Regions from separate parts of the Homo sapiens genome. Here region 2 is linked to region 1. The links come from fine-mapping of genetic effects on gene expression. A gene starts in region 1. The other region holds a variant in brackets. All regions are shown on one strand. Distances are between the middles of the regions.

What was found. PIP is the estimated chance that this variant, and not a neighbour inherited with it, causes the effect.
Region 2: its variant is fine-mapped to the expression of ACAT2 in whole blood (TOPMed, PIP above 0.99).

What each region holds. Positions count from the first base shown.
Region 1 is chr6:159,759,202-159,764,575 of GRCh38, forward strand. It overlaps ACAT2 (acetyl-CoA acetyltransferase 2), which reads left to right and starts at 2,844. Exons shown (of 9, transcript NM_005891.3): 1 at 2,844-2,941; 2 at 3,718-3,852. The coding sequence starts at 2,887. SOD2-OT1 (SOD2 overlapping transcript 1) reads right to left here and starts at 3,131. Exons shown (of 2, transcript NR_037166.1): 1 at 2,793-3,131; 2 at 1,057-2,435. It also overlaps a transcript of SOD2 not described here. RefSeq lists enhancers at 2,097-2,156, 4,225-4,725 and silencers at 2,587-2,646, 2,667-2,816.
Region 2 is chr6:159,712,369-159,717,742 of GRCh38, forward strand. It overlaps a transcript of SOD2 not described here and the pseudogene HNRNPH1P1. Among named protein-coding and RNA genes, the nearest start is that of WTAP, 12 kb to the right of the region's middle. The variant C/CA (reference allele first, on the strand shown) is at 3,108.

The DNA.
Region 1 (5,374 bases):
AGGCATGTGGCACCACGCCCAGCTAATTTTGTATTTTAGTAGAGACAGAGTTTCTGCATGTTGGTCAGGCAGGTCTTGAACTCCCGACCTCAGGTGATCTGCCCGCCTCGGCCTCCCAAAGTGCTGGGATTACAGGCATGAGCCACCGCGGCCGGCCAAGACATAATTTTAAAAATTATCTTCCAGCTGGCCGGGCGCGGTGGCTCACGCCTGTAATCCCAGCACTTTGGGAGGCCGAGGTGGGCGGATCACAAGGTCAGGAGTTCGAGATCAGCCTGACTAACATGGTGAAACCCCGTCTTTACTAAAAATATAAAAATTAGCTGGGCATGATGGCACGGGCCTGTAATCCCAGCTACTCAGGACTCTGAGGCAGAAGAATCGCTTGAACCCGGGAGGTGGAGGTTGTGGTGAGCCGAGATAGCGCCACTGCACTCCAGCCTGGGTGACAGAGCGAGCTCCGTCTCAAAAAAAAAAAAAAAATTCCTCTTCTTTCCTTCATTCATTATTCTTAGTCTCTGTCTGTCTCATATGAGTAGATAATCATATGAGTAGCTATAATGAGGACTCCTCAGGGGACAGATTCTGTTTGGCCACTCAGCAGAAGCATGCAATTACCTTCTCAAGATTGGCTCCTAAACTTACTCTAGATAGAGCCTTCAGGCAGGAAACTCTATATCCCTTGGCTCCAGAAGAATATATTCATACTCATTCAAATGTGCTAGGCACTGGCCATAAAGAATATTGGTGTTCATTCATAACTGCCTATAATGTGCTAGGAGCTGTGCATAAAGCAGTGTAACAGGATCATCTTGGAAAGCTTATGTAGTCAGTAGAGGAGACAGATAAACTAGGAATTACATGGTAAGTTGAAAGAGGAAGTTAGGGGTAAGATGCTGCACCAAATGCAGGAGATTGGAAGGTTTTTCTGGAAGAAGTGATGTTTAGGGGGAGTTTCAGAGGTAAATTTCTGGTTTGGTTAACAGAAGATAGTTTCACTGCTCACTGAGATTACAGAAGAAACAGGCTGGAAGAGTTTGGTTTCAATATGTCAAATTTGATGTGCTTATAGGAAATTTTATTTATTTGAGACAGTTTCTCTCTGTCGCTCAGGCTGGAGTGCAGTGGTGTGATCTCGGCTCACTGAAACCTCTGCCTCCTAGGTTCAAGCGATTTTCCCATGTCAGCCTCCCCAGTAGCTGGGATTACAGGCGCACGGCACCACGCCCGGCTAATTTTTCTATTTTATGGTAGAAACGGGATATCACCATGTTGGCCAGGCTGGTGTCAAACTGCTGACCTCAAATGATCCGCCCTCCTCGGCCTCCCAAAGTGCTGGGATTACAGGTGTGAGCCAAGGTGCCCGACCTGATGTGCTTGTAAGAATTTAAATGAAGAGGGTCAGTCAGCTTAGGAGACGAGGTTAGATGTAAGGATTTCAGACTTGTCAGTATACAGGTGGTGATTGATGCCGTAGGAATGACTGGTATTACCCAGGGAGCTGGTGCAAAGTAGGAGCCTTGGGGAACATGTTAAGGGGATGTGAGAGTAAGCCCACAAAGACTCAGAAGTGGCCAGGGAGTAAGGGGAAAATGGGATAGAATAGAGCAAAAGCCACGGGAGGCATTCCTTGAATTCCTTGGACTCAGATATGTTAGGGGACAGGAAACACATTGAAGACAACTGAAGAGACTTCAGTGTGCTGCTGAGTTCTTAGCAGAGTAGACAGCTGATTTCACCACTATTCCAGACCCTAAAGATTTCTCCTGAAATTGCACTGTTATGCAATTTTTTTCCTTCTCTATTGCCCCACCTCTGGGGCCTACACTCTTTACCTTCTCTGATTTATCTGACCCATCCGCATATCTCTGCAAAGTCTTAATGTAGGTTTCCAGGATTTAATGATTCTTTCAATCAACTTTAAAGTTCTTCAGGAAGATTCTCCAGGTCCGTCAACAGTTTTCCCCTTCATGACTTTGTGACAAAGCTTTCTTGTTCCACTATCCAGGTGTTCCCAACAAGTTGCTGTAACGGTGGCCCCTCATAAGCTTGCCTGGAAACCCTAGAAAGCTCAGAAAAATTATGAACTTTGCCCAGTAAGAGGCTGGGAAGTCAGAAAGGGTTTTAAACAAAACTGACCCCACTTGTTACATGCTCCTTTCACTGTCCAAACGTCAACCAAAGGAACTTTTGTGACGCTAAGACGCTCCCGGCGTCCTCACCCGTTCACAGCCAGAGTTGATCTTAGAAGGCAGGGGGCTCGCACCGAGACGCTCCTAGCAAGCCCCTCACGCGAGCGAATGACTGGCGCCAGGAGAAACGCATAGGACCTCCCGAAGCCGCCGAGAGCAAAAGGACCCATCAGAGCTGTGCTGAGACCCGCCGCGGGCCGGGCTCGCACTCGAGATTCTCGCCCGTGGGATTCCAGTCCTGAGCTGAACGAGAGATAAGTCTTTGTCACCCCCCAGTCTTTACTGTTTCGAGAAACCCTAAGATTTTTTAAAAAAAAGCCCAAGACGTCAAGTCGGGGAACTCCAACATTGGGGTGTCCAGAAACACTGGGGTTTCAGGCGCTCTGTAAATGCGTCCGAGGTCCGCGGTTCTGCCCGCAAGCCCAGACCCCGGCCTCACTTCCGCCCCGCGCCCCGCGCCCCGGCCTCACTTCCGCCCCGCGCCCCGCGCCCCGCGCCCCGCGCGCCTCCGCCCGCCCCTGCTCCGGCCTTGCGCCTGCGCACAGTGGGATGCGCGGGGAGGTGGTGCGCGGGGAGGTGGAGGGCGAGGGGCGGGGCTACCTCAGGTCCCGCCCGCGGCAGGCCTGTGGGCTGCGAGGAGGAGCTTTGCCTAGCTTGCAGGCAGCGCAGGGCAGACGGCGGCAGGAGAAGCAAGATGAATGCAGGCTCAGATCCTGTGGTCATCGTCTCGGCGGCGCGGACCATCATAGGTGAGTGGCCGGCGGGAGCCGCGCAGAGTCCGAGGCGCCTGCTGCTTCGGCAGGAGCGCCGAGGGCCGGACTTGTGTAGGAGAGGGGCGTATGTGGAGGAAGCCGGTCAGGCCAAGCCGCGAGGAGCCGCGGGATCCCTGGAACCCTGCGGCTCCCGCGTTCCCTGACCTGGTGCTACAGCCCCACCCTCTCCTCTCCCGATGTGCGCACTCCGTCCCTCGTGCTTGGATTGGCTCCCGGGGTAGAGCCATCGCGTGGCCTGCCTCTCCCATTGGTTGGCGTAGGGAGGTGTTCTCCTCCGGGGCCCCTGATTGGCCGGCTCCGGGAGGCGCCATCGGTAATGCCTGCGGCAGGGGCGGAACTGCTAGGTGGTCTGAGCCCGGCTTTGGGCTGGGGTCGGGCTGTCACACAATGGCTAGAAGTCGTGACTTCGTCTCCTTCGTGCCGCATGGTTTTCAACGCCCTTGACCCGCCGGTTCCTTTTGTTTGGGAAGCATGGGGTCGCATCCAGTCCTTCGGATTTGGGGAAATAGAAGGGCTACAGCGGCGTCCCTAGGCCGTTCTGGAGGTCGCCTGTCCAGCCCTCGGCTGCTGCGAGTTGTGGCACCCACCTTGACCTTTGCTCAGACCAGCAGGTGTAGGAACGTGTGGGAGGAGAGGGCACTGCCTCCTCGCGTGGCCTTGCCAAACAGGGTCATGAGGCTCCCCTGCTCGTAGGTGGTTCCCGTATTACCCGCAGGCTTGTGATGTCCACGCTCTCCGCCTTTCTATTGTAGGTTCCTTCAATGGTGCCTTAGCTGCTGTTCCTGTCCAGGACCTGGGCTCCACTGTCATCAAAGAAGTCTTGAAGAGGGCCACTGTGGCTCCGGAAGATGTGTCTGAGGTCATCTTTGGACATGTCTTGGCAGCAGGTAAGTCTCAGTGATTCCAGGAGAAGTCAGGCTTATTAGAAACAGCCCATAAACACACACACACACACACACTCTCACACACTCACACACTCTCTCACTCACTCAAGTTCTTGCCTCCTTGCTTTTGCTCAGAGTTCCCTCTGTTATGATTCCTCCTGTTGGCCCCCTTCTTCCAGCCCTGTCAGTAGCTTCTATCCAGCTTGAGACTCAGCTTCTTGGCCAGGCAGGGTGGCTCCCGCCTGTAATCCCAGCACTTTGGGAGGCGGAGGAGGAAGGATCACTTGAGTCCAGAAGTTTGAGACTAGCCTGGGCAACAAAGCAAGACCCCGTCTCTACAAAAAATAAAATAGCCAGGTATGATGGCCTGTGCCTCCCAGCTACTGGAGAGGCTGAGGTGGGAGGATCACTTGAGCCCAGGAGTTTGAGACTGCAGTGATTGTGTCACTGCACTCCGTCATGGGTGACAGAGTGAGACCCCTTCTCTAAACAAACAAAAAGACTTAGCTTCATTAATATGCTTTTTGTGAATGAACTTAGACCACTGACCTACACCACCTACACTGCCTTTTCTTTTCCTTTTTTTTTTTTTTTTTTTTTTTTTTTTGAGACGGAGTCTCTCTCTGTGGCCCAGGCTGGAGTGCAGTGGCGTGATCTCGGCTCACTGCAAGCTCCGTCTCCCGGTTTCACGCCATTCTCCTGCCTCAGCCTCCCGAGTAGCTGGGACTACAGGCGGCCCACTGCCTTTTCATTCTTACGAAGCAGGGCCGGCCGGGCCCGGTGGCTCACGCCTGTAATCCCAGCACTCTGGGAGGCCGAGGTGGGCGGATCATGAGGTCAGGAGATCAAGACCATCCTGGCTGACACGGTGAAACCCCGTTTCTACTAAAAATACAAAAAATTAGCCGGGTGTGGTGGCGGGCGCCTGTATTCCCAGCTACTTGGGAGGCTGAGACAGGAGAATGGCGTGAACCCGGGAGGCGGAGCTTGCAGTGAGCTGAGATTGTGCCACTGCACTCCATTCAGCCTGGGCAACAGAGTGAGACTCCTTTTAAAAAGAAGAAGAAGAAGCAGCAGCAGGGCCAGCCTGACGCATAGGAAAGTATGCCTGCTCCTCCTTACTACCTCAAAGTGTCACTCATTCAACAAAAATGTATTCAGTTCCTCCTATGTGCCCCATACTGTGCTTAGTGCTGGGAGTATGGTTCCAACAATACAGGTAAGTTCCCTGCCCTCTTAGGGCTCAGTTCTGAGCTTGGAAAATAGGTGCCACATCATGCCCCTTGCAAATGGGGCATATCACTCCCCAGAGGAATATAGCTGAGTCCTGAGAGTGCCCCCATCTTCTGATTCTTTGGGTTTGAACACTCGTAATTAATTAATTAATTATTATTATTATTATTTAAAGAGACAGGGTCTCACTCTGTTGTCCAGGCTGGAATGCAGTGGTGTAATCAATCGTAGCCCACTATAACCTCAAACTCCTGGGCTCCACGGTATCCTCCCACCTCAGCCTCTGGAGTAG
Region 2 (5,374 bases), 47 kb before region 1:
ACCTCCATAACCACCTCCATAACCACCACTCACACTGCTCTGATCACCATAACCACCTCCATAACCACCACTCACACTGCTCAGACCTCCATAACCACCTCCATAACCACCACTCAGCTGCTCTGACCTCCATAACCACCTCCATAACCACCACTCACACTGCTCTGATCACCATAACCACCTCCATAACCACCACTCACACTACTCTGATCACCCTAACCGCCTCCACAACGACCACTCAGCTGCTCTGACCTCCATAACCACCTCCATAACCACCACTCACAATGCTCTGATCACCCTAACCACCTCCATAACCACGACTCAGCTGCTCTGACCTCCATAACCACCTCCATAACCACCACTCACACTACTCAGACCACCATAACCACCTCCACAACCACCACTCAGCTGCATAACTAGACTGGTTGGGTAAGCCCATCTCTCCCATCATTTGCCTACCATAAGCACCACCACTTGCCCCTGCTGTAGATTCAAGAAAAGTTCTACATAGGTGTGTTCATAAACCCCCCTACTTGTTCCTATAGCATTTAAAAAGGTCTCCCTGTACCTGTGCTGCATATTAGCTTTGTCTTTTGCCATAGCTGCCACTGCATCTTCGTGAGCAGCAAACTCAACATCTGCCCTACCAGTAAACTCTGTCATCGTGTCCAATTTCAATATGTACTCTCATGAGGTTAAGAGGTGAATAGAAATTATAACATTCTTAGTGGCTCTGTAAGGTAAACCCCTCGTGTGTACACAGTGCCCTGTGGTGCTCTGGAAACTGGACCCACTATCTCCGTATCTATGATCAGACATTCCTGAAAAACAGTAATTGCGGTCTTTTCCAAATCTATCAGACCTAAAGCCATATCCATCATTACAGCCACGATAGTCATCATAGCCTCTATACCCTCCACCATAGGGACCCTGCCTCATCTTTTCAAACCCAGCTCCTCTGCCAATGCTATTACACCTCAGCCAGCCCCTGGCCTATCACTGGGACCTGGCCACTGCACAGCCATGAGCTTCTGAGAGGGATCATAGTAGGTATGAACTTCAGCTTGGCTATTCTAGAAGATTTCAATGTACCTGTGCCCTATTCTTTCCCTGTGTTTCTTCAATGCCGTCTCAGCTATCTCCTGCGAAGCCAACTGCACAAAGGCTTCCCCTGTGCTTCTGCCCTGAAAGTCCACTCACAGTGTTATCCCATTTGGCACAATTTCCAACCCTGAAAAGAAATGAACAATCTCTTCCTTGGACAGCCAAATGGAAGTCCTCTAAGCCAGACGAAGCCATCGTTGGCAGTATCAGGACTATTCAGACCTGTGTGCTTCGATACCCAATCCATTTCAACACTATTAGACTTGAATACTTCAACGTATCTGTGTCCCATGGTTTCTCTGTCTTTAAAGCCAATTTCGCTTCATCTGCAGATTCAAGTTCAACAAATGCTTCACCACTTGGTCTGCCTTCTCCGGTGTAGATGAAACAAATACCTGATGTGCCATTTTGTATTTTGCAATCAGAGAAGTGCATCACTTCATCAGCTGAGCAGGACCAGGATAGGCCCTGGACCTTCACCACGAACCCCTCCCTGCCTTCCGTGCTCAGCATCGTGGCGACTGTTGAGCTCTTGGTGGCAAGTTTGGCGGAATGCAATTTTGGTGTAGTGGGCAATTATCCTCCTTCTGCCTTCAAATGGGCTATAGCAAGATGACAAGCAGAACTACTTCTGCTCACATAAGCAAGTGATCACATGAGCACACCGGCTTTACCTCTAATCTCTGCTGCCATCTGACTTCTCTGTGCCTCTGCTGTCCCATCTGTCACATAAGACTAATACAGGCCCTCACCTCCCTAGACGTCGGGTTGTGAGGACCAAAGAAACATCATCTCTGCCTATACCTTTTCCTCTATTCTTTTTTCCCTCCAGAAACCCAATGACCTTGGACTTCCCTGAGTCCCACACTGGCTGACATATTACATACGGATTCTTCCCTCCAAGGGAAGATAAGCCTAGCTTCCATCGGGAACAGACCCGCACATTCCATCAGTCCCTTCTCCTGACTGTACACTCCCTACTTCACTCCCCAGGCAGGGCCTGGGTAGTGAACTTTTAAGAACCAACACTGATTTGACTTCCACCAGCAGGCTCAGCAGCACAGCCTCTAGATGTTTTGCTCGTTTCATCGCCAGGCGGTACTCTTTCCCACGGTACTATAAAGCAATTCCTGTTTTTCACTTTGTTGAAAAGGTGTGCCAAATGACTGCAATTCTGTGTGCCCAGATTATGATAAGCCTACCCTGGTGTCCTGCCTAACTAATCACATCACAGCCCACTGGCATTTTCATCAGAAGCCTTTGCTTGAGTGGATGGGGGTAGGCTGCAGATTCTTCTCTGTTGTCTGGCTGGAGTAGAGCAGTTACTGTCTAAAGGTTTTCTGTCTTGGTAGACTGCCTCCTTTCTTGGACCTTTAGTTATACATAAGAGGCTTTTGCTGGTGGCTGTTTTTGTCTGTGCTTGTTGATGTGTACAGATTGCTGGCTTCTGGGATATATGAGGCAAAAATGAAACACAGGGAGTCATTCCTGTGTCAGTCCTTGGGTCCTGAAGTCCATAGCCAGTTTGCCTTTCAGTCTTCTTCTGCTTGTTTTACATATAATATTCAGGATTTTTAGCCATACTTGGTGAGAGGAACATGGAAAAGTATGTCTAGTCCATTTTCCCAGGAGTGGAAATTTCCCAGACTTGTGTTTAGAAAGGGCTTGTTGTGTAGGAGAGAGTTTGGATGGGAAGCAAAGATGGGTGGCAGAGGACCAATTGGGGGGCCACTGTTAGTCGACAAGAAAAGCTGAAGACCTGGATTGGCCAGTGGCACTGGGACCCAAATGAGTGGGATAGAGAAAACTATTTACAGGTTAAGAAAAACAGGGAAGAGCAACAAAAACATGTCTAACAGGAAGTCAGTGTGGTCAACAGTAGAACCATTGCTTAAGGCCCAGTGCTCTCCTCTGGCAGAAGAATGGATTTACAGTTTGTCAACAGTCACATAGTTTTTGAATGGACTGTCTCCTGTCCTAGTGGGTCTTTAATTTGTGGGGAA[C/CA]AAAAAACCGTCCTTTTAAAAACTGAAGAGATTTGACTGAAGGTTTGACCAAACAGGATCTTACCGTTGCATCCATAAGGTTAAACACTATTAGCAAGCAACAGAGGCAAACAGAATAGTATTTTGAAAAGTTCTGAATATAGGCCAGGCATGGTGGCTCACGCCTGTAATCTTAACACTTTGGGAGGTCAAGGTGGGAGAATCACTTGAGCCCAGGAGTTTGAGACCAGCCTGGCCAACATGGTGAGACTCCGTCTCCATAAAAAATGCAAAAATTAGCTGGGTATGGTAGTTCACACCTGTAGTCCCAGCTACCTGGGGGGCTGAGGTGGGAGTATCGCTTGAGCCCAGGAGGTGCAGGCTGCAGTGAACTGAGATGACACCACTGGTCTCCAGCCTGGGCAACAGAGCTAGACCCTGTCTCAAGGAAAAAAAAAAAAAAAAAGTTCTGAAAATAAAATCCTTCAAGACCCTTATATTTTTATTGTAGTTAGCTTTTTGTCTTATAAAAGTTTGGTTTTCTGGAAATGAATAATGACTTTTAAATTTTTGCTTTATTGTGAAACAAGGGCTATGGACATCATAATGTAAAAACAACAACAATAAAGCAAAGTGTCACAGAAAAACCTAGTTTTGCTGGCACCTCTCCATTTTATTTCACTTGCTGATCATGTAAATGCCCTTCCTCTCTAAGTTAGAATGTGTTTGGCTATGGGTAACAGGAATCCTGATGAACAGTGGTTTTAAATATAAGGACATATCTGTTTTACCTAATAAAAAGTACAAGAACTGGCAGTCCCTTGGTGAGTCTGGAAGATTAACAAGGTCATCCCGGACCCAGGGACTTTCCATTCTTGACTCTGAATTCCCAGCAGCCTGCTTTCATTTTCCAACTTGTTGCCTCATCGTCACAAGATGTTTCCTATAGGTGCAAGCAGCACAGCCTCTCACAGCCTAGTAAGAGACAACAAGGAAGGGAGGGGGAAAACATTTCACCTCATGTGCCTCTCCCCGGAAGGAAAATTTTTCTCAGAAGCCCCGAGAGATTTCCTCTGATCCCAGCCAGAACTGCTCAACTGGCCAACTCTGCCTGCAAGAAGACTGAGCACCATCACTATGTGGTAAAGACCATGACAGCCATGCTTGCCTTAGACCAGCAGTTCTCATCAAGGGCATGACGGGAGGGGGCAGTATTGAAAATATAGAAAGGGACACTTTCAGCTGTCACATATACAGAGAGGTGCTATTGGCATCTAGTGGGTTGGTGTGGGGATGCTAAATGTCCTAAAATGCACAAGATACTTTTCACACACACACAAATTGTCTTGTCCAAAATTCCAGTAGCACACTTGTTGAGAAACACTGGCTTACACCAGCCATAATTCATCTCCTGGCCTGAAGATACTATGACTCAAACACAATTTAGAAGTTCCTAGATTGTGCAAGAGGAGGAACATGGCTCCCAGTAGTGTGTGCCACAATACCCCAGCAGATGTTGGAAGGAGTACAGCAATGCCTAGTCATTCTGGCATGCTAAATCCTTTTCAGAAAGCTGCTATTATTTGTACTGAATGGGCAACTAGGAAAGAATTACAGGGATCAGGACAGGGAAATTACATGCAAAAGGTGCCTTTATTTTTCCTAATGAAGGGATTTTTTTCCAGTAGCTGGACAAGCCTGTTTCCGAGAATAATTGACTCTGAGCTACCCATACCTCTGTTACCTCTGTTGACCAACAGATGCTCCTTACTCCCACCAAGGAGTTCAGAATGTTTAAAACCTAACTCTATCTTTATTTTTTTACTATAATTATTTTAGAATTAGAGACAGGGTCTCGCTGTGTTGCCCAGGAGGGTCTTGAACTCCTGGGTTCAAGGACTTCTCCCACCTCAGTATCCCAAAGTTCTAGGCTTATAGGCATGAGCCACTGTGCCTAACCATAAAATTATTATTTTTATTTGACACATAATAACTGTACATATTCTGGAGTACACTGTGATATTTCCATACATGTATACAATGTGTAGTGATCAAATCAGGGTAATTGGCACATCTATCAATTCAAATATCTATTATTTCTTTGTGCTGAAAATATTCAAAATCTGCTCTTCTATTTGAAAATATACAATAAATTGTTTGTTATTATAGTTACCCAATGGTGCTGTAGAACACTAGCACTTATTCCTCCCATCTAGCTGTACTGTTGTATCTGTTAATAACCTCTGGCTGTCCCCTCCCTACCCCTACCCTTTCCAGTCTCTAGTAAC